2 separate regions of the Homo sapiens genome follow, and region 2 is linked to region 1. Evidence: fine-mapped expression QTL. A gene starts in region 1. The other region holds a variant in brackets. All regions are shown on one strand. Distances are from middle to middle.

Region 1 (9,393 bases):
ACCCTGGGCTCTGCCCGGTGCCCGAGAGCACCTGCCAGCCTGTTTGATTCCTGATATCCACAGACATGCACCAAACACAGGTCTGAGTGGCCAGGACCACAGCACAAGTGGGTGCCCCTCACGGCAGAGACCTCCAGTCGAGACTCACCTGCCTTCTGCTCCAAGGGCCCGGCACCCTGAGATCCTGATGCCAGGGTAAGCTGGGGGGCTGCTCATGGTCGAGGACACGGGTGGGTGCTCCTGAACAGCAGAGTGGCCCCAGGGGTGGATGCGTGGGGGCTCAGGCGCAGGCAGCCGTGGGGGACATCACCACCTCAGACCCACAGCAGTCCCCTAGGGCAGCTCAGGAGCTCCGGCCACCTGAACTGGCCCTTCCATGGGCAGGACCACTCCTGTGGGCAGCACAGTGGGTGCAGAGCCGGGTGGCTGGGGTGAGACCCTTGGCTGGCAGAAGCTGCCTGCCAAATGTCAGCAGAGGCACAGCAGCTAGGAGGCCCTTGAAGCCTCCACCGTACTGAGGGAACAGCACTCACTGCCGTCCTCAGAGGCCAAGGCCACAGGCATAAGAGGATCACCCAGCTGGGGGCTTGTGTATGCCTGATATTAATAGCGCTGGCTTTGCCTGGTGTGGCCCTGACAATCCTCGGGCCAGCCCTCGGTGTGAACTGCCCCCTCCTGTGTGTGGGCTGGCACATTCGGCCAGCCTAGGACCGCAGGCCTGCGGAGGACCACTGTGCGCCGTGTGCCTGCACCCCTCCTGGATCCCCTGGAAAAAGCTACAGTACCCCGGCCTGCCTGGGGCTACAGAGTGAACCCCCCGCAGCAGGACAAGGATATCTGAGGCGCCTCTTGGCCAGGTGTCCTGAACGTCAGTGCTGAGCTGGGCACCCCATCCCTAGCCCCAGAGTGCTTCCGACAGGCATAAACAAATCTGAAACTCCACCCTCTGGCACCATCTGAAAATAACTGCCTTGCCCTACCCCCACTCACGGGGGATCCTGCAGGGACCTGCAGCCACCCAGGGCTCACCACCCAGGGCTCAGCAGAGCACAGGGGACACAGCCACCTCCCCGCCCAGGGCTCAGCAGGGCACAGGGGACACAGCCACCTCCCCGCCCAGGGCTCAGCAGGGCACAGGGGACACAGCCACCTCCCCGCCCAGGGCTCAGCAGGGCACAGGGGACACAGCCACCTCCCCGCCCACAGAAACAGGGTTTCGGCCCCACCCTCCGCAGAGTCAGTCAAGGATGTGCACAGAGAAGTCCTGGCAGCCCTAAGCTCTCTCCCAGGGGCAGACAGGTCAGCCATGGGTGTCAGCTTCCTCCTACCATGGGTTTCTCTTGGAGCTTCTAGTACTGAGGCAGGGGCTGCCAGAAGCTCAGGGAAAAGGGAAGACTCCACATGGAGGTCATACTCCTCAATAGTAGGCCACTCCTGGGAGCTGCCTCAGAGGCAGGACCGGCCCATCTGTCTGTGTCCACAGGTGCTTCCTCTCCTCATTCTGCTCCCAGGAGGCGGCTACATCCCTCACTTGGGAAGTGGGCAGGAGACAGCCCAGGGTCGGGGAGGCGGAGGCTGTCCTGAGCAGGGGCGCAGAGTCCGGGCTCCTGGGGGCCATGCCACTGGCTGGGCTGTCTGAACAGCAGAGTGGACGCAGACTGGTCTTGCCTGGCATGGGCATGCACCCTGGCTGCCCTAGCCGGCCAAGAGGCAAGGCTACAGGCCTGGGGAAGCCAGCACTGTGCTGGCCAGGCGAGGGACGGAGGAGCCCAGGCACGCAGCTGTGAATGGAACCACCAGGCCCCACCCTGGAATCACGTCGCCTCGCTGCAGGCCACGTGGTCCCCAACATGCCCCTCCACGGGGCTGCTCTCGGCCACAGCAGCCCACGGCAGGGAGGGGCCGCTCACGGTGGGGAGGGGTAGCCTGCCCTGGTCCTATTCACTGGTGTTCCTCCCAGGTTCTAACTTCCTGAGCTGGGCCGGTCCAGAGAACTCCCATTCCCACGCCACCCACAGGTGCTGATGCCGCGCTGGGGTAAGCGCTGCCCAGAGCACCTTCTGCCTAAGGCTTCCTCCTTGCAGGTGGGGCTGTCTGAGGCCCGTGGTGCTGGAGGCTGCCTCAGTCACTTCAGGGCACCCCTTGCCCTTCCCTCACCTTCAGCCATCCTACTCTGGGCCACAGCACAGTCGAATGTGGCTCAGTCCCCTCCACGGAGCCACAGCTTGCCTCAGTTTCCTCCTCAAGGACTAACAGCAGGTTCATTACAGGTGGGTCAGCTCATAAAGTCCAAGGCAGATGCCTCATCGGTGATCAGGCCCCATAACTGATGTCATCGTCAAGAAATAGGCACAGGTGGCCGGGCGCGGTGGCTCACGCCTGTCATCCCAGCACTGTGGGAGGCCGAGGCGGGCGGATCACCCAAGGTCGGAGTTTGAGACCAGCCTCAACGTGGAGAAACCTTATCTCTACTAGAAATACAAAATTAGCTGGGCACGGTGGCACATGCCTGTAATCCCAGCACTTTGGGAGGCCAAGGCAGGTGGATCACCTGAGGTTGGGCGTTTGAGACCAGCCTGACCAACATGGAGAAACCCTGTCTCTACTAAAAACACAAAATTAGCCGGGCGTAGTGGCACATGCCTGTAATCCCAGCTACTTGGGAGGCTGAGGCAGGAGAATTGCTTGAACCCGGGAGGCAGAGGTTGCTGTGAGCTGAGATTGCGCCACTGCAATCCAGCCTGGGCAACAAGAGCAAAACTCCATCTCAAAAACAAAACAAAACAAAACAAAAGAAATACACACAGGCAGCCGGGTGCAGTGGCTCACGCCTGTAATCCCAGCACTTTCAGAGGCTGAGCGGGCAGATCATCTGAGGTCAGGAGTTCAAGACCAGCCTGGCCAACATGGTGAAACCCCGTCTCTACTAAAAATACAAAAAATTAGCTGGGCGTGGTGGCGGGCGCCTGTAGTCCCAGCTACTCGGGAGGCTGAGGCAGGAGAACTGCTTGAACCCGGGAGGCGGAGGTTGCAGTGAGCCGAGATGGTGCCATTGCACTCCAGCCCAGGACTCTATCTCCAAAAAAAAAAGAAAGGAAGAAAAATAAGCACAGGCATGTGTGGAGACCTGGAGGCAGGGCTGCCCCTCACGAACCATCCACAATGCCAAGGAAACCAGAAGCAAACGTCCAGCAGCAGGGAGCGCAGGGCATGTGAAACCGACACTGAGGAAACAGCCACGGGAGAGAGCACACAGGGAGAAAGGAAGGCTCGGGCACTCCCTTGCTGTGGTTCAGGCCTGTTCTACCACCCCTGGGGTCACCATCGCCCACGGACCTTCCTGCTGGGTGCCTGTAGCACGGCACCTCCTGACAGGTCAGGTTTAAGGGAAGTTTGCTGGATAACTAAAATGAGGCTGGGGGGAGGAGGGAGCAGGGAGGAGCTAGCCCACAGGAGCCAATGCAGGCCTGACCCCACTGGTGCCGGACTGACTCAGGGAGAGTCATTAGGGCTGCTTTCTCAGGCTGGATGAGCACTGGGGGTTGGGGGCTTGCCCTGGCCCACCCCACCACTCAGGAAACCTTCCCTCAGCAGGACCTGCCCTGCACAGATCATGGGCAGCCTCCCTCTGCTCCCCACTTCCACAGCCCCAGACTCCATCTCAACCGCAGCCAGGAGTCACTGCTAACACCACAAAGGACCTGTTCCTGCACCAGCACGGGCCAGCTCTGGGGGCAGGTGCCCAGGACAGAGTCACGAGTGGCAAGCAGACAATAAACAACAGGCAAGATGGACAGACTGATTGCCGGGAGGATGTGGCAGGAGGCACTGGAACGGTGGTGGAGGAACCCCAGCCCTGGGGACAGACCTCCACCCGTGCACAGACCTCCAAGCTGGAGCCTGCTCTGGAACACTAAGGGCAGCAGCAGAGGTTGAAGAGGGGCAGACGCAGGAACGTTGGGGACACGCTCGGGGAACAGTGAGAAAAGCCCTAGGCTGGGGCAGAGGAAGTCCTCGATGGCACAAGCATCAGGACACAAAGTGCAAGAAATGTGCCTAAGACAAGAGGCAGTTCCAGGGCAGACCGGGGCCCCTGGAGAAGGGTGCTGCAATCTATCCTCACTGCCTGGAGCTTCCCTCCTGTCCCTTGGTAACCACACCAAAGAAAGATAACAACAGTCTCTGCCTCGTGGGACACAGCGAGGGCCACCGTGCCCAGCCCACCGTCTGTGCACAGGGCAGGCCCAGATGGCTGCTGCCACCAACCTGTGTCATCCAGGAGTGCCTTTCTCAAGAGCTCTCAGTGCTTATCTAGCGTTGGCCTGCCCCACCTCGGGTTAAATCAAAACCTCTTTGGTGGCTGGGCGCGGTGGCTCACGCCTGTAATCCCACGGAGGCCGAGGCGGGCAGATCACCTGAGGTCAGGAGTTGGAGACCAGCCTGGACAACCTGACAAAATACCTCTCTACTAAAAATACAAAAAAAAATTAGCCGGGCGTGGTGGCGCACACCTGTAATTCCAGCTACTCGGGAGGCTGAGGCAGGAGAATTGCTTGAACTGAGCTCGGGAAAGGGAGGTTGCAGTGAGCCGAGATCGAGCCACTGCACTCCAGCCTGGGCGACAGAGTGAGACTCCATCTCAAAACAAAAAAACAACGCCTCTTTGGAACCAGCAGAGGAACAGACTCAGGCCCTATTAGACTCCAGCCATGCAAAGTTCCTAGTCACTGCCCACTGGGAGGGTGTGGACCTGAAGGGACGCAGGGCCAGGGGAAAGCTCTTTCTGCTCAGCAGCTCCTGGAGAGGAGCGACCCTGTGCCGGGACACCCTTCCCCCTGCGGCATCCAGCGCAGCCCATCTCTGAGGGAGTCCTGGCTCACAGCGTTTCTGACAGGAGTCACAGCCTGAACCCAGGCAAGAGGCGCCTGAGTGGGAACAACCCCTTCCTGGGGACCCCGCGGGCTCCCCAAGGGACACTTCAGACCCGGAAGGGAGGGGCAGCGCCCAGAGCGCCCTCTTGCAGCCCCGGGCACTGCGTGGCCACCGCCCCCTGACGGCCACGGCCCCAAAGGCGCCGCGCAGGGCCCGGCTCCCAGAGGGGCCACTCGGGGTGACGAACCGGGGTGGGGGCGGGTTCCTCCCGCTGCACCCCCACAACTTCCCCACTTCATGCTCTTGCAAAGCCCCCGCAGAGGCTCGAAGGTGCCACGCGCGTGCGAGGCAATCCGAAGGCACCGTGCGCCGCAGCACCTCCAAATCCTAAGCCCTGGCCTCGCGGGTCGGGCAGGGCCACACCCCGAGCCGACAACATAGACCAACTCGCACAGTCGAGCAGGCACACAGCCCGCCGGGCGCTCGAGGCCGAGGGCCCCACCCACCGGGGGCAGAGACCAAGGTCAACGCTGGGGGTGCGCACCCGGACTCCTTCCCCGAGCCCCGAGGAGCCTGCCGGCTTGGGCCAGGTCCGTCCTCCCGGCCGCTTCAAGCCCGCGGGGTTCCACCCGGCACGTGGGAGAACGGGGCGCCGCCGCCTGGCCTCCGGGAGTGGGGGACTTGGGCTCGCGGCGGGGACGGACCACCCGCCCAGCTCGGCCGGATCTGCAGCCCCTTCCCGCTCGCCAGTGGAGTGGAGGCGAGGCCCACGCCTACCGGTCCTCGCACGCGGTCTCGCTTTTCTCAGCCTGCCGGCCTGGTGTGTCTCGGGCCGTAGGTGGCGACGTGGGCGAAGGATCAGCGTCCGCGCGGGCCGGGGGCGCAGCCATGGCGCTCGGAGGCCTCTTTGCGGGCCTGGCCGGGCGGCGCGCATGGGCCGCCGGGAGCTGGCGGGTCCCTCTCTTGCCCACCGCGGACTACAAGCCCCACAAGGCCGCGCGTCGCGGACTACAAGCCCCACAAGGCCGCGCGTCGCGGACTACAAGCCCCACAAGGCCGCGCGTCGCGGACTACAAGCCCCACAAGGCCGCGCGTCGCGGACTACAAGCCCCACAAGGCCGCGCGGCGGGCATGGGGGACCCGTAGTTCGGCAGCCTCCGCCACGTGCCTGGAGGGCCCCGCCCCCTGTTTTTCACCACAAACTGAGCCGCACAAAAACCCTGGAAAAAAATCAATAAACATTTATTTGATACAGTCATTTTAATACATACAGTGATGGCCCGTCCCCACGCCACTCGGGACCAGGGCGCGGGGCGGGGACGAGGACCGGGGACAGATGGTCACAAGGCGGGCGGGGCCCGAACTCACCGTTGAAACATCTCGCAAATAAACACTTTGTAGATAGAATATATATGTATATATATATGGTTACAAGTGATAGCTGGAACCTCTTTCAAAATGCACTTATGTACTGAGAACTGGCATTAAAAAACCCAAACCAAGAAACCCAAAGCACGGGACGCCCGGCCGCGAGGCAGGGGAAAGCCTGGGGCCCCAGACCCGGGCCTGGGGGAGCCGCCTGGGGCCCCGCCAAACGCGGCACACGGGGACGGCCCCTCCCGGGGTCAGGCTCACTGGCTCCTTCCCTTCAGCGCCACCAGGCAGGAGGGCCAACGGTCACACAGGAGGCACCCTCACCTGCCTTTGCACCAGCAAATAAAGTGCATCCCATTTTCGTGTGAGCGTCGGCCCGGTGAGTCAGCCCTTCCGGGCCCTTTCCTGTTCTCAGGGCAGGGGGCGTGCGCTGAGCCAGAGGTAGATCTGCAGAAAGGGCCCCGACTGGGCCTCGGGCAGGGCCGGCGCCCACCACACTCTGGGGGTCAGCTATGCTGGTCCCTCTCACTGAGGGCTCCTGGAGGCCTATGTGGGCCAGCGTAGGGAGTGGGCAGACCCTGCTGAGCTCCACCCAGGGCCCCACCCCTTGGGAGGAGGGCTCTGCGGACCAGCATGTGGCAGAGGGAGGGCAGAAAGGAGGGGGTCAGACCCAACAGCCACTTCTGGCAGTAGCCCCCACGCCTACCTTAAAGACAAAGGGGGTTAAAGTGCTAAACATCAAGGTATCCAGGACTCCTCTTCCCACACCAGGGATTATCTGTGGGCTTTGGGAGTGTCCCGGAAACTCACCCCCAGCAAAAACCAGACCCTCTTCTCTTCTCCCCAAGGGCCAAGTACCTGAGAGGCTGGGGCAGGCACCACACCCTGCAGGTGTTCAGGTCCACCCTCCTCCCGCCATTGGTGGCAAGGACAAAGTGCACCTAGGCCCCCGCCCAGTGCCTGCTCCCCTCCCCTCCCCTCCCCTCCCCTCATGAGGCTGCCCCAGCAGCAGCTGCCAGACCCCACCCTCCACCTCCGGCTCCTCCAGCTCCACCAGTGAAGCTCTGGGACACAGGAAGGAATGCCTCCCCCGACCCTCTGACGCTGGGTCACGCCCATCTCTGCCCCAGCCTCCATCCTCTCATCAGGCCGAGGTGTGCGTGGGTGGGGGGAGTCCGGGTCTCCACACCCACTCCCTGGCACATCTGGCAAGGGCTGCTGAGGGTTGGAGCCTTCTGGCCCAAGGATGAAGCCAGAGACAGGAAGTGTTCTGCAACCCCAGTCCCCAAAGTGCTCCTGGAACTTGTCTCCCTACTACTGCAGGCCAAGCCCAGTGGGGCCCCTTCTCCCTGGGGAATGGGGGAGGGTGGGTGCTGGGGGCAGAGGCAGTGCCCAGTCAGTACTGCCTCCCTGAGCAGCAAGGGACCCCAACCCCAGAGACCCACGCCCTGGTCCAGCCCAGCCCCCAGGCCCACCGTCTGCACCAGGAAACCCTTAGCACCAAATGTCGGATTGCGAGTGTTTGTATAAAAAACAATTTAAAAAAAAGGTTGTTACTTGTCACAGCAACAAGACTGGCATCCACTACACCCAGGAGACACACGCACACGGGCAAACATCAAAATTCTCATCGTCCAGGGTCAGTGGGGCCGAGCCCTCAGCCCACTCCCACCCACCCTGGAAAATGGCCTCCCTCCAAACCTACCCCCTCTGAGCCTCATCCTCCCTGCAATGCCGTGGTTGGAAGGCAGGACCCCAGGGAGGGAGCCACAGGCTGTGGCCACCTCTTCCAGGCACCCTGGACTCCCTGCCTGACCCCTGCCCTACCTATAGACCCAGCCGTCCTCAGGGCCACAAAGGGGCAAAGACAGCTCTGGAGCTGCCATCAACCTGCTGTGACTTTGGCCAAGCCCCTCCCCTGGCTGGCCTTCAGTTCCCATATCAAATGACCACACAACCAGAAACAATGGGGGCAGGTTAAAAAAAAAAGTGGGGAGGGGGCTCCCATGAGAGCTTGGCCACTGGGCCTACCCAGATTGGCAGACAGAAGGCTGCCTTTCCCCCAGTGGCCACTCAGAGCCAGGCCAGCTCTGCCCAGCTTCCTGCCCCACATGCCTATGGGCCCCAGCAAGACCCCAGGGCCCGAACTAGTCCGTCCCTACTCCACGAGGCTGCTCCAACCTAGGCCTGCAGTGCCAGAAGGCTGAACACTGGAGGAGAGCACACTCCAGGGGCCCCACACCCCCAGGGCTGGCAGCTGTGTTGAAGGGCATCAAGCTTCTGCTGCCCTGTAGGTACAAGAAGCAAAACCCCTCCCTTGCCCCAAGCTGGGAGAATTACAGACAGGCCTGGGGGGCAGGGCCTGAGCACAGCAGGGATCGCACTGACAAAGGAGGAGCAGGGGTGGGGGTAGTGGGCAGGCCTGGAGAGGTAGAAAACAGAAGCAAGGGGACCAAGTGGGTGGCCAAGGGCAGGCCGGAGCCTGTCAGGTCAGCATGGCAGTGGTCAGACAGGGGTCTGTCCTGGGAGGTAGCTGGGGGTGCTGGAGTTCCAGTGTTGGGTGGAGGTGAGGCCAGGATGGTGGCTGCCCGTGCCAGGTTGCTCAGGTGCCCTCACCAGCCCAGAACCACAGGTCACCAGGGATGCCTGAGCCTTGGGGTAGCCAGGGAAGGGACCCGGCAGGGCCTGAGGAAGCGGAGCCGGGGGGCCAAAGGCCATCTGCCTACTCTGCGCTGCAGCCCCTGTGGCACCAAGACCCCAGACACATTCCCATGAGGAGGGGCAACCCTCCTGGCTATTGCACTTCTGCTGGGCACACCTTGGGGAGCCCCAACCCAGGTGTGCCCTGTGGCAGCCTTAACAGGGGAAGGGCCACCTTCAGGGAAGGGAGAGTGGCTGGCTGCCCCACTGGACGGATGAAGAGGCGGGGGTGGGGGATGGAGAACTGGAGGACAGAGGTCCCGGAGCTGGCCCTGCCTTGAACAGAGGGCGGTGTGGCGGCTGCATGGGGGCCAGGCCCCACGCACCATGCTCACTTTTCAGGCGCCTTGCTGACTCCCACCTTCCGGCCGGTGGAGCCCCGGGCCCCCTTGTCTCTGCATCCTGGAGGCCAGTCGTCCCGGCGCGGGGGCAGCTTGGCCACAGGCT
Region 2 (11,791 bases), 28 kb before region 1:
GCGAATAACGCTGATGGCAGCTCGTCACTTGCAGCAGGTTGCAGCACGTGCTGCTCGTGTAGCTGCGGCTGCACACCAGGCCTCTCCTTTAACTGTGTTATAACCTTTCTGTTGACATGGGATCCCCTTGAAAGTTTTTTTTTTGGAGACAGGGTCTCACTCTGTCACCCAGGCTGACGTCCAGTGGTGCAATTTCAGTTCACTGCAACCTCCTCCTCCCGGGTTCAAGCCATCCTCCTGCCTCAGCCTCCCAACTAGCTGGGATTACAGATGCACACCGTCACACCCAGCTAATTTTTGTATTTGTAGTAGAGATGAGGTTTCACCACGTTGGCCAGGCTGGTCTCAAACTCTTGATCTCAGGTGATTCAACCACCTCAGCCTCCCAAAGTGCTGGAATTACAGGCGTGAGCCACCACTCCCGGCCCCCTTGAAATTTAAACCAAGTTTAGGAAGAATGAAGTTGTGAGGTGCTACTTCAAACATCAGGTGGCAAACTCCCGGACTCATTACCCCAAGGAAATAGGCAGTCCAGGTTGGTGGCTCACGCCTGTAATCCCAGCACTTCGAGAGGCCGAGGCAGGCGGGTCACCTGAGGTCAGGAGTTCAAGACTATCCTGGCCAACATGGTGAAGCCCATCTGTACTAAAAATACAAAAAAATTAGCTGGGTGTGGTGGCGCGCGCCTGTAATCCCAGCCACTTGGCAGGCTGAGGCAGGAGAATCGCTTGAACCTGGGTGGTGGAGGGTGCATGGAGCCAAGATTGCACCATTGCACTCCATCCAGTTTGGGTGACAGAGTGAGACTCTGTCTCAAAAAAAAAAAAAAAATAGACATCAGAAAGGGTTGGCTCCTGTGATCTCGGCACTTTGGTGACCATGACCCAAGGCAGGAGGATCACTTGAGCCAAGGAATTCAAGATCAGCCTGAGCAACATAGACCCCGTCTCTGCAAAAAATTTCTAAAAACTTAGCTGGCATGGTGGCTCACGCCTGTAGTCCCACCTATTCAGGAGGCTGTGTTGGGAGGATCACTTGAGTCTGAGAGGTTGAGGCTGCCATGATCCCTTATCACACCACTGCATTCCAGCCTGGGTGACAGAGCAAGACCCTGTCTCCAAACAAACAAAAAAGCAAAAAATGGTGTTTTACCTAGGTATTTACCATTTCCAGTGGTCTTCATTCCTTTCTAAAAATCTAGGTTTTAGCCGGACATGGTGGCTCATGCCTGTAATCCCCAGCACTTTGGGAGGCTGAGGCGGGTGGCTCACCTGAGGTCAGGAGTTCCAGACCAGCCTAGCCAACATGGCAAAACCCAATCTCTACTAAAAATACAAAAATTAGCCAGGCGTGGTGGTACGTGCCTGTAGTCCCAGCTATTCAGGAGGCTACGGCAGGAGAATCGCTTGAGCCTGGAAGGTGGAGGTTGCAGTGAGCTGAGATTGCACCACTGCACTCCAGCCTGGGCAACAGAGTGAGACTCTGTCTCAAAAAAGAAAAAAAAAAGAATAAGTCACATTTTGGTGAGGAGCAGTGGCTTGCACCTATAATCCTGGCACTTTGGGAGGCTGAGGCAGGAGGATCACTTGAGACCAGCCTGGGCAACAAAGCCAGACCGTGTCTCTATAGAAAATTTTAAAGTTAGCTGGGCATGGTGGCACATTCCTGTAGTCTTAGCTGCTTGGGATGCTGAGAAGGGAGGCTTTCTTGAGTCCAGGATTTCAAGGCTGCAGTGAGCCAAGATCGCACCACTGCACTCCAGCCTGGGCAACAGAGAAAAACCTTGTTTCTAAAAAAAAAAATTAGGCTGGGTAGGGTGGCTCACACCTGTGATCCCAGCACTTTGGGAGGCTGTAGCAGGCGGATTGCTTGAGTCTGGGAGTTTGAGACCAACAAGATCCTGACTCTATAAAAATTTTAAAAAATAGCTGGGCGTGGTATTGCACACCTGTAGTCCCAGCTACTCAGGAGGCTGAGGTGGGGGGATCAGCTGAGCCCAGGAGGTCAAGGTTGCAGTGAGCTGAAATGTGACCACTGCACTCCAGCCCGGGCAATAAAGTCAGGCGGGGAAAAGAAAGAATGAGTTAACATTTTCTCAGCTTTATGTGTTGAGTGATTTTGGATTCTATCCTGAAATGGTAAGAATGAAAAGAAAATCTGCCAAGTCCATCCGTTCCTACACTCTCACTGCCTCCAAGTCATTCTGCGCTCTTGAGCCAGAACGACCTGGCCGTTTTTAAAAATGGAGTTTTTTGCCTTAGTAATTGACTTGTGTAAGAGTTCTTTATTCCACTTGTGAATTGTTTTTTATACGTACATAATGTAAATATTTTCTCCCCTTCTGTGCCTTTCAGTATGAATCTATCTGAACTCGATTCTGCTGTTGTGTGTGTGTCTTTTCCTCAGTACCAGATGGTCTTGATTACTGTAGATATATAGTATATGTCTTGAAATCAATAGGGTAAATTCTCTAACTTTTGTTCTTTTTATTAATGTTGCTGTGGCTAATCTGTCTGCTACATTTCCTTATACATTTAAAAAAATCAGTATCAGTTTCTGCAAAAAAAAATCCTCTTGGATTAGGGTTAGGCTTCTGTCAAGTCTACAGATCAGTTTGGGGAGAACTGACTTCTTTATATCGAGGCTTCTAATCCGTGAACATGAGGAATCTTTTTCTTATCTTTAGTATCTTAGCAATTTGTGGTTTTCAACGTACAGATTTCATAGGTCTTGTTATTTCTTTTTCTTTTTTTGAAACAAGGTCTCACTGTGTCACCCAGGCTACAGTGTGGTGGCACGATCATGGCTCACTGCAGCCTCGAGCTTCTGGGCTCAGCCATCCTCTTATCTCAACCTCCTGTGTCACTAGGACCACAGACATGAGCCACCATGCCTATTTAACTTAAAAACAAAAACAAAAAACCGGGCACGGTGGCTCATGCCTGTAATCGCAGCACTTTGGGAGGCCGAGGGGGGGATTGACTGAGGCCAGGAGTCCGTGACCAGCCTGGACAACATGGCAAAACCCTGTCTCTAAAAATACAAAAATTAGCTGGGTGCAGTGGTGCGTGCCTGTAGTCCCGTGCCTGCGGCATGGGAATGGGTTGAGCCTGGGAGGCGGAGGTTGCAGTGAGTTGATGACTTAGGATTTTTCTTCTCGGTCACTTTGCAAGCCGGGGACCCCTGGCCAGTGATGCCCCACCTGGGCCCTGCTTGGCCACACTGGCGTGCCCCAACTCACCTGTGTTATAGCTTGTACTGTGTTCGGCCATTCCCGAGCTCATGTACCGCACTCAAGATCAAGGATACACTGGACATTGAAGGGTGAGGAGGGCGGAGAAGAACTTTATTGAGCAGTGAAACAGCTTTCAGCGGACCAGGGGATGCAGGGGTGGTTCCCCTACCTGAAGGCAGGAAAGTCCGCCTGTGTGGCTGGGTCTGGGGCTTTTTATGGACTCAGGATGCGGAGTGCTTGCAGAGCTTGCTGATGGGTTTGTGAGTATGCAGAAAAGGTTAAAGTGGGCATGACAGTGTAGAAAACCAATTATAAGAGGCCGGGCACGGTGGCTCACGCCTGTAATCCCAGCACTTTAGGAGGCTGAGGCAGACGGATCACAAGGTCAGGAGTTCAAGACCATCCTGGTCAATGTGGTGAAACCCCATCTCTACTAAAAATACAAAAATTACCTGGGCGTGGTTCGCGTGCCTGTAGTCCCAGTGACTTGGGAGGCTGAAGCAGAAGAATCGCTTGAACCCGGGAGGCAGAGATTGCAGTGAACTGAGGTCACACCACTGCACTCCAGCCTGGGCAAACAGAGCGAGACTCCACCTCAAAAATAAAAATTAGGAAAGGGTAGGTATGTGTAAAATAGGTGAAGGATGGGGATCAATCAGAGGAAAGTGTGGCAAACAGGAAGGCAAGTTCTTCATCTAGTCTGAGGATTTAACTTGTAGCTCAGCTGTCAGGCTTTAAACTGTCTTTGGCTTGGAGGTGGGTTTCACCGGGAACCCGCCCCATCTGCCTGGCATTCAGCTGCCTCCTGCCAGTATCACCGAGATCGCGTCACCGCACTCCAGCCTGGGCAACAAAGCGAGACTATCTCAAAACCCCATATTGATGTCATTTCCTAAATATTTGGTTAAAAAAAAAATCTGGGCCTGGAATTTTATCTGGTTTTTTTTTTTTTTTTTTTTGAGACGGAGTCTCGCTGTGTCGCCCAGGCTGGAGTGCAGTGGTGCGATCTCTGCTCACTGCAAGCTCCGCCTTCCGGGTTAACGTCATTCTCCTGCCTCAGCCTCCCGAGTAGCTGGGACTACAGGTGCCTGCCACCACTTCCGGCTAATTTTTTTGTATTTTTATTAGAGATGGGGTTTCACTGTGTTAGCCAGGATGGTCTCAATCTCCTGATCTCGTGATCTGCCCGCCTTGGCCTCCCAAAGTGCTGGGATTACAGGCGTGAGCCACGGCGCCTGGCCTTCTGGGGATTTTTTATTACAAATATAACTTTATTAACAGATGCAGGCCTATTCAGATTTTCTATTTCATGTCAGTCTTGGTAAATTGTAATTTTCAAGATATTTGTCCATTTCATCTAATTTTTCTAATTTCTTGGCATGAAGTTGTTCGTATTTTATCCTTTTCACGCCTCTAGGATCTGTAGTGATGTCTTTCCTCATGTTGCTCAAAGAACCAACTCTTTTGGCTTTGTTGAAGTTATCTGTTTGTTTTCATGGATTTCTGTTCCTTATGATTTCCTTGCTTGCATTTATGTTGGGTTTATCCTGTTACTTTGTAGCTTCCTGAGGCGGAGCCTTAGGCCTTGATTAACGTGTTGTACTAGTCAGCATTCTGCAGAGGAACGTTGCCATTATCTGTGTCTCTTTCTAAAGGAGATTTGTTATGAGGAATTGGCCCACGTCATTATGGAGACGGAATCTCATGCTCTGCCATTTGCTGAAGATTGAGGAAAGCAGTGGGATAATAACAGTCCAAGGACAGGAGGAGACACGTGGCCCCGCTCAGGCTGGCAGGCGAGAAGGAAAACCCAGGCCAACTCCTCCTCCCACCCCTTTCTATTCGGGACCCCCGTGGACTGGGACGACACTCACCTGCACAGGGCAGCGCAGTTGGCTTCATGGAGCCCCCAGCTCAGGTGCTGCTCTTACCAAGAAACACCCTCCCAGGCACACCCTGAAGTCATGTTTCATCTGGGTGCCCCACGATGCAGCAAAGGAGACATGAAATTAACCGTCATGTACACTGTATTTATTATTCAATTCAAAACATTTTCTAAGTTCCCCTGGGATTTCTTCTTTGAGCTACATGTTAGCCGGAGGTGTGTTGTTGAATATCAAGAGTATCTTCCTCCTGGGTTTCCAGTTTGTAGCTAAGTCAGGGATAGTGCTGTGTGTGACCTCATTCCATTACGTTTATTGAAACCAGCTTGAAGCCCTAACATGTGGCTTGTCTTAGTGTACAGCATTCAGTTAAAAACAATGTGTGTTCTCTAGATGTTGGGTGTTCTGTGACTGTCACGTCATGGTGGTTGATTAGTTAGAAACAATGTAGAAACAATGTGTATTTGCCAGGCGCTGTGGCTCACACCTATAACCCCAGCACTGTGGGAGGCTGAGGCAGGCGGATCACCTGAGGTCGGGAGTTCAGCCTGAGGTCGGGAATTCAAGACCAGCCTGGCCAACATGGAGAAACCCCATCTCTACTAAAAATACCAAAATTAGCTGGGTGTGGTGGCACATGCCTGTAATCCCAGCTACTCCTGTGTGAGGCTGAGGCAGGAGCATTGCTTGAACCGGGGAGGCGGAGGTTGTGGTGAGCCGAGATCGTGCCATTGCACTCCAGCCTGGGCAACAAGAGCAAAACTGTCCCCCCCCCCAAAAAAGAAAGAAAGAAACTGTGTGTTCTCTAGATGTTGGGTGTTCTGTGAAGATCAGGTCATGGTGGTTGATAGTGTTGTTCAGAACATCGATGTTTTTCCTGATTTTTGGTCTGTTCTGTCGATTTCTGAGAAAGTATTAAAATTAAAGTTGGGTCTTGCATTTTTATCCATTCTGTCAGTCCCTTACTTTAATTGGAGTTTTTTGTCCACTAACATTGAATTTAATTGTTGATATGTTTGGATTTAGATCTTCCAACTAATTTTCTATTTGTTTCCTGTGTTGAGTTACTTTTTCATTTTTCTTGTAACTTTTTAGCTTATACCTCTTTGCATTTTTTATGCAGAGGTTGCTGTAAGGATTACAATATGCATGTTTATTTTAATTAATTAATTTATTTTGTTTATTTATATATTTGTTTTTAAGGAACAGGGTCCCTGTCTCCTGGGCTCCAGTGCAGTGGAGTGATCATAGCTCACTGCAGCCTCAAACTCCTGGGCTCAAGCGGTCCTCCCGCCTCAGCCTCCCAAAATGCTGGGACTACAGGTGTGAGCCCCTGTGCCGGCCCACAGTACACAGCTGCAGTTCTTCAGGATCTCTTGGGGTGGCCGTATTCTGCCGTCTCACACTTCTCCATGCCATGGCGTCTGTCTGTGCACGTGGCAAACTCCACAAGGCAGTGTTGGATTCTTTTGCTTTGAACGGTCTTATGGAATAAAGTCCATCAGCTCTGCCCTTGGTACTTTCATCTATACTTTGTGATACTTTCTTTTTATTTTTTCTTCTAGAATAGCCTAACATGGCAGACCAGAGACAGCGCTCACTGTCTACCTCTGGGGAGTCATTGTACCACGTCCTTGGGTTGGACAAGAACGCAACCTCAGATGACATTAAAAAGTCCTATCGGTAAGTGGACAAGTGTGGCCCCCACATCCCCCCAGGAAGACACACATGCCCCGTGTGGTTTAGTCTGCATTTTACCAAGAACCATTGCACATACTTTATCCTGGCCGACTCAGCGTTGAACTGGTCACAGCTCGGTAACACCTTTGTATGTGTAATGTGCTCCTTATAGCTTAAAGTTATGGTATTCATGTTCTCTTGCCAACAAAAAATAGCACTTAGTAGAAACTGACACACTGTCCACAGTTCCATAGGGAGTCAGGGTCTGAACCTGTTTGAGGCCTCACAGGAGCCGCAGAGCGCTGGCATGGTCCTGTGGTCTCCTTGTTTTAGCACAGTGATGACAGAGACCCCTCACTCTGTTGTGGCCTTCTGATTGAGCTTGAAGAACTGCACTCTT[G/A]GGTACAGTTTCATTGAGTAACCTGTAAGAGACACCATCACTAATCCAGACAATTCAGATAGTCCTCCTCTCGTGTGCTAGCATCGTGTAGTTCATAAAACACTTCTTAAAGTGCCATCATTACGCCCCGCCGTGCTTACCGTTCACTTGGCACTTGTGCAGTTAGCGGCTGGGACACCAGGGCTGGCCTTGGTGCCGCTGAACTTAGATGTGCCGTGGCACTCACAGCCCTTGGGGCTCCCTCCTCTGAGGCTGGGTCAGGGTGAGGAGGTTTACCTGAAACAACCGCGGAGCTTGCTTTTGTCCCTGGCCCCTGCAGCCCTGGAGAGTCGGACAGTGAGGTGGCCTGGGTGGACCTGCCTTCCACTGCACCCGGCAGTGCGTGCGGGTGGGATGGACGCGGCGGCGGGTGCGGGTGGAACAAAGTCCAGGGTAGAGCCAGGACATGGTTTTGGTTTGCAGGAAGCTTGCCTTGAAATATCACCCCGACAAGAACCCCGACAACCCGGAGGCCGCGGACAAGTTTAAGGAGATCAACAACGCGCACGCCATCCTCACGGACGCCACAAAAAGGAACATCTACGACAAGTACGGCTCGCTGGGTCTCTACGTGGCCGAGCAGTTTGGGGAAGAGAACGTGAACACCTACTTCGTGCTGTCCAGCTGGTGGGCCAAGGTGAGGGCGAGCTGCCTGCCGTGCGGGCACCCGAGTCACTCCTGCCGTGCGGGCACCCGAGTCTCTCCTGCCGTGCGGGCACCCGAGTCACTCCTGCCGTGCGGGCACCCGAGTCTCTCCTGCCGTGCGGGCACCCGAGTCTCTCCTGCCGTGCGGGCACCCGAGTCACTCCTGCCGTGCGGGCGCCCGAGTCACTCCTGCCGTGCGGGCACCCGAGTCTCTCCTGCCATGTGGGCACCCGGGTCACTCCACGCCTGCAGGGTTCCCAGCATTGCAGAGCCCATGCGTTGATGCCAGCAACTCTACACTCCTGAGAAAAGGCTTCTGGGCATATGGAGCCTTTCTCCTCACCTGTGTGATGGGCGAAGCTCTGTCACTGGCTTGGTGTCCTGCCTGGAACAAGCCATAGCGTACAGATTGTCCCAGGGAAGAGCCGTGCGGAGCCGCCAGGGTTTCTTCTGTAAATGGCTCCCAGTCCTTCGTGAGACAGGAGGAAATAAGCCTCGATGTTACATCCGCATTTCTTCGTTTCCTCGTTTTGTTCCAAATGTCATATATGAGGCCAGAGGGTTGGAATCACTGCATGGCATTTGTGAGAAGCCTGTATTTGGCTTTGACTGGTCGGCCTCCTCACTAGAATCCTTATAAAGTACTTTTTATTTAGTTAATGTTAGACAGAGTCTCGCTCTGTTGCCCAGACTGGAGTGCTGTGGTGAGATCCTGGCTCACTTTAACTTTGAATTCCTGGGTTCAAGTGATCCTCCCACTTCAGCTCCAGAACTGCAGGAGTTGAGGCGTGAACCACTGTGCCCAGCCTGGAGGCTGCTTTGTTTTTTTTTTGAGACGGAGTCTCGCTCTGTTTCCCAGGCTGGAGTGCAGTGGCGCGATCTTGGCTCACTGCAAGCTCCACCTCCCGGGTTCACGCCATTCTCCTGCCTCTGCCTCCCGAGTGGCTGGGACTACAGGTGCCCGCCACCACGTCCAGCTAATTTTTTGTATTTTTAGTAGAGACAGGGTTTCACCGTGTTAGCCAGGATGGTCTCGATCTCCTGACCTCGTGATCCGCCAGCCTCGGCCTCCTGGAGTGCTGGGATGACAGGCATGGGCCACCACGCCCGTCTTGGAGGCTGCTTTTCTTTAAGCTGCGGGTTTCTTTCTGTCTCTCCTCCTCCCTTCTTCAGTTCTTTCCTTCTGCTTCCTGTCTGGAAGGCAGTATCCCCACCTGGAACGCACCCCCTGCCTTCTGCTGAGGGCATTTGGGAGTCCTGCGCCTCCCTCTCCAGGGGCCTCGGAGGCCATGCAACACCACCTTCTTCTCCCCCCAGGCCCTGTTTGTCTTCTGCGGCCTCCTCACGTGCTGCTACTGCTGCTGCTGTCTGTGCTGCTGCTTCAACTGCTGCTGCGGGAAGTGTAAGCCCAAGGCGCCTGAAGGCGAGGAGACGGAGTTCTACGTGTCCCCCGAGGATCTGGAGGCACAGCTGCAGTCTGACGAGAGGGGTGAGTGCCCGCCCCAGGGCCCGTGTGTGTGTGTGGGGCAGAGCCAGAATGGGCCCTGAATGGTGTCAACCTGTCTTGTCAAACAGGAGGGCACTGACACTGTGCCGCGAGTGTTTGTGGTGGCAGCTGGGACTGTTGAGGTGTGAACGTGGACCCTGAGGTAAAGCAGGCGCATAGAGCTGTCCCCGCCGTGACCTGCGGTAGCCGTAGATCCCAGGGACTGCGAGGCGGGGCAGGGCGGCAGGCAGTTGGGGCGGGGCTGAGGGCCGAGGGCTGGCGGTGACCCAAGGCGACGGAGGAAAGCCGTGTGGGGTGGAGGTCAGCGAGTAGCCTCTCCCGGTGGAGAGTTTGTCCAGGTGCCCGAAAGTCGCTCCACAGGACCAGCGTTGGGTGCGCGCCAGGCTGTGGCCCTCGTGCAGTGCCCTGTGTGCTTGCTTTTCAGAGGCCACAGACACGCCGATCGTCATACAGCCGGCATCCGCCACCGAGACCACCCAGCTCACAGCCGACTCCCACCCCAGCTACCACACTGACGGGTTCAACTAAATCCAGGAGGAGCTGTGGTCAGAGGAGGAGCCGGCGCCTGGCCACGCCAACCTTAGAATCATGAACTGTAGTCACAGAGATGGGAAGGCAGCCTCCTGCCTGCCCTGGCCTTGCTGGGGCCCCTCCTGCCTCCACGCCCACCCAGCGTCGACCCTTGACCCACGAAGTGCGTAGCATGCAGTATTTAAAGCAGTGTAGCTACGGTCTTCTGTTTTTTTCCCTTTTTTAATAGCATGTATGGGGTTCTGTTCCATGTCTGTGTTGTGGACATTCCGCGGCATGACCGCGTGAACTGCACGGTGGAGCTGCCTCAGGGCTGTCGGTCAGGTTGGTCCAGTGAGGGGTGACTGCAGCCGGTCAGGTGGGCGAGGAGAAGGGGGGCTGCCCCTTTCCTACCTGTGCTTGAGGGGCCGGAGGCAGGTGCTGCCTGGCAGAGCTGTGTTACCGTCTTGGCCTCGGGGTCTGGTCCACACTCTGTGCTCCCAGCCTTGAGGCTGCAGTAGGACTCTGATCTCACCTGCCAGAAGAGAGGCGGGGCCGCGTCCTCCTGGCGTCACCGGCGTCACTGTCATTCCTTGGTGTCTGTGCTGGGCATGGTTGGCTTGGGGGTCTGTGGTTTCCTGGGCCTTGTGGCAGGGTTTCTCCCGTGGGAGAATTTGGTGTGGAAAGCATAGGAGGCCCCTTCCGAGGTTGACACCGTGTCCTCCGCGGTGTTTCTCGCCTGGTCGTCTCGTCGTGTGGACGCTGCCGTTCTGGTTCTCGGAGGTGTGTCCTTCGCCGTGTTGGGGTTATTTGTCTGTGTTCCTGCACTTTTCCCGGGCTCTGAGCTGGATTGATGGGGCCAGTCTCCCCCCTCCCATCTTGAGGTCGTTCTCCACATTCCTTCCAGCACACCTGTCCTTTCCATAGCCCTTTTTGGACCTTTAGAACCACAGATGATAGGACCAGCCCAATGAGCCACAGTCAGAGAGTAGATTGTGCATGTGTGAGCACCCAGCTACTGGGGACGGGGGCTCTCCCACGACCCCTCCTCCTGTGTTTGCCAGAGCTCCCATCTGCCCCACTCGCCTTTGCCCCGTCATCGATGATTCAGGCAGAGCCAGATTCGTTAGGTCCCTGGAGGAAGGACTGACTGGACCAGAGGGACCCTCTGGCTCAGGAGGGTTGGGTCCCTGGGAGGCCGGCAGCCAGGCCACAGAATCCACACGTGGACCATTGTGGGTCCCTGGGAGGCCGGCAGCCAGGCCACGGAATCCACACGTGGACCATTGTGGGTCCCTTGGGAGGCCAGCAGCCAGACTACGGAATCCACATGTGGACCATGGGAAGTCAGTCTCTTGCGTGTCCTAGACCTTGTGGGTGGCGCCCTGCATAGGGGAGCAGGGGGAACGGGTCTGATGTCCCTGTGCTGGCTGAGGGCTCAGAGCTGCCCGCACTCCGTAGCTCATGGGATGTGCTGGGCCTGCCTTTGGCGCCATGCTGCAGACTCCAGTGGGCCTGGTTTCTGCAGAATGTCCATGGTGGCCGCTGCAGAGTTGCAGAGGTCCCTGTAGAGATAAAGCTGAGGAGGAGGCTGTGTGTGATGGCTCTGGCTCGGACCAACCAGATGAGCCTCCTGAAGCCCCCTTCCCTGCCTGCCTGCTGACCCGTGGCCCCAGCTCACTCATTGCCCTCAGCAGCCACCCGAGGCTGTGCAGAAGGGTAGGTTCAGGTTGACCAGGAAGCTGCCAAAAGGGACATGGATATGAGGATACATCTGGACGTGCTTAGGAACAGGGTGCTGGTTGAGGGCCCCCAGCTGACCCCTACTGCAGATCCGCATGTGGACCATGAGCCGGCTGCCAGCACTAGGTCCTGGGCAGCTTTGTTTGTCC

Evidence for each region.
Region 2: its variant is fine-mapped to the expression of UCKL1 in whole blood (INTERVAL, PIP above 0.99).

Annotation. Positions count from the first base shown.
Region 1 is chr20:63,950,611-63,960,003 of GRCh38, forward strand. It overlaps UCKL1 (uridine-cytidine kinase 1 like 1), which reads right to left and starts at 5,806. Exons shown (of 15, transcript NM_017859.4): 1 at 5,650-5,806. The coding sequence starts at 5,762. ZNF512B (zinc finger protein 512B) reads right to left here. Exons shown (of 17, transcript NM_020713.3): 17 at 6,094-9,393. The coding sequence ends at 9,278. It overlaps UCKL1-AS1 (UCKL1 antisense RNA 1), which reads left to right and starts at 2,774. Exons shown (of 1, transcript NR_027287.2): 1 at 2,774-6,375. RefSeq lists silencers at 4,893-5,202, 5,253-5,302, 5,403-5,772, 6,363-6,572 and enhancers at 5,903-5,962, 5,992-6,879, 6,880-7,765.
Region 2 is chr20:63,921,652-63,933,442 of GRCh38, forward strand. DNAJC5 (DnaJ heat shock protein family (Hsp40) member C5) reads left to right here. Exons shown (of 5, transcript NM_025219.3): 2 at 6,684-6,801; 3 at 7,661-7,874; 4 at 9,200-9,371; 5 at 9,814-11,791. The coding sequence starts at 6,695. The coding sequence ends at 9,917. Among named protein-coding and RNA genes, the nearest start is that of MIR941-5, 7.7 kb to the left of the region's middle. RefSeq lists an enhancer at 10,585-11,086. The variant G/A (reference allele first, on the strand shown) is at 7,199.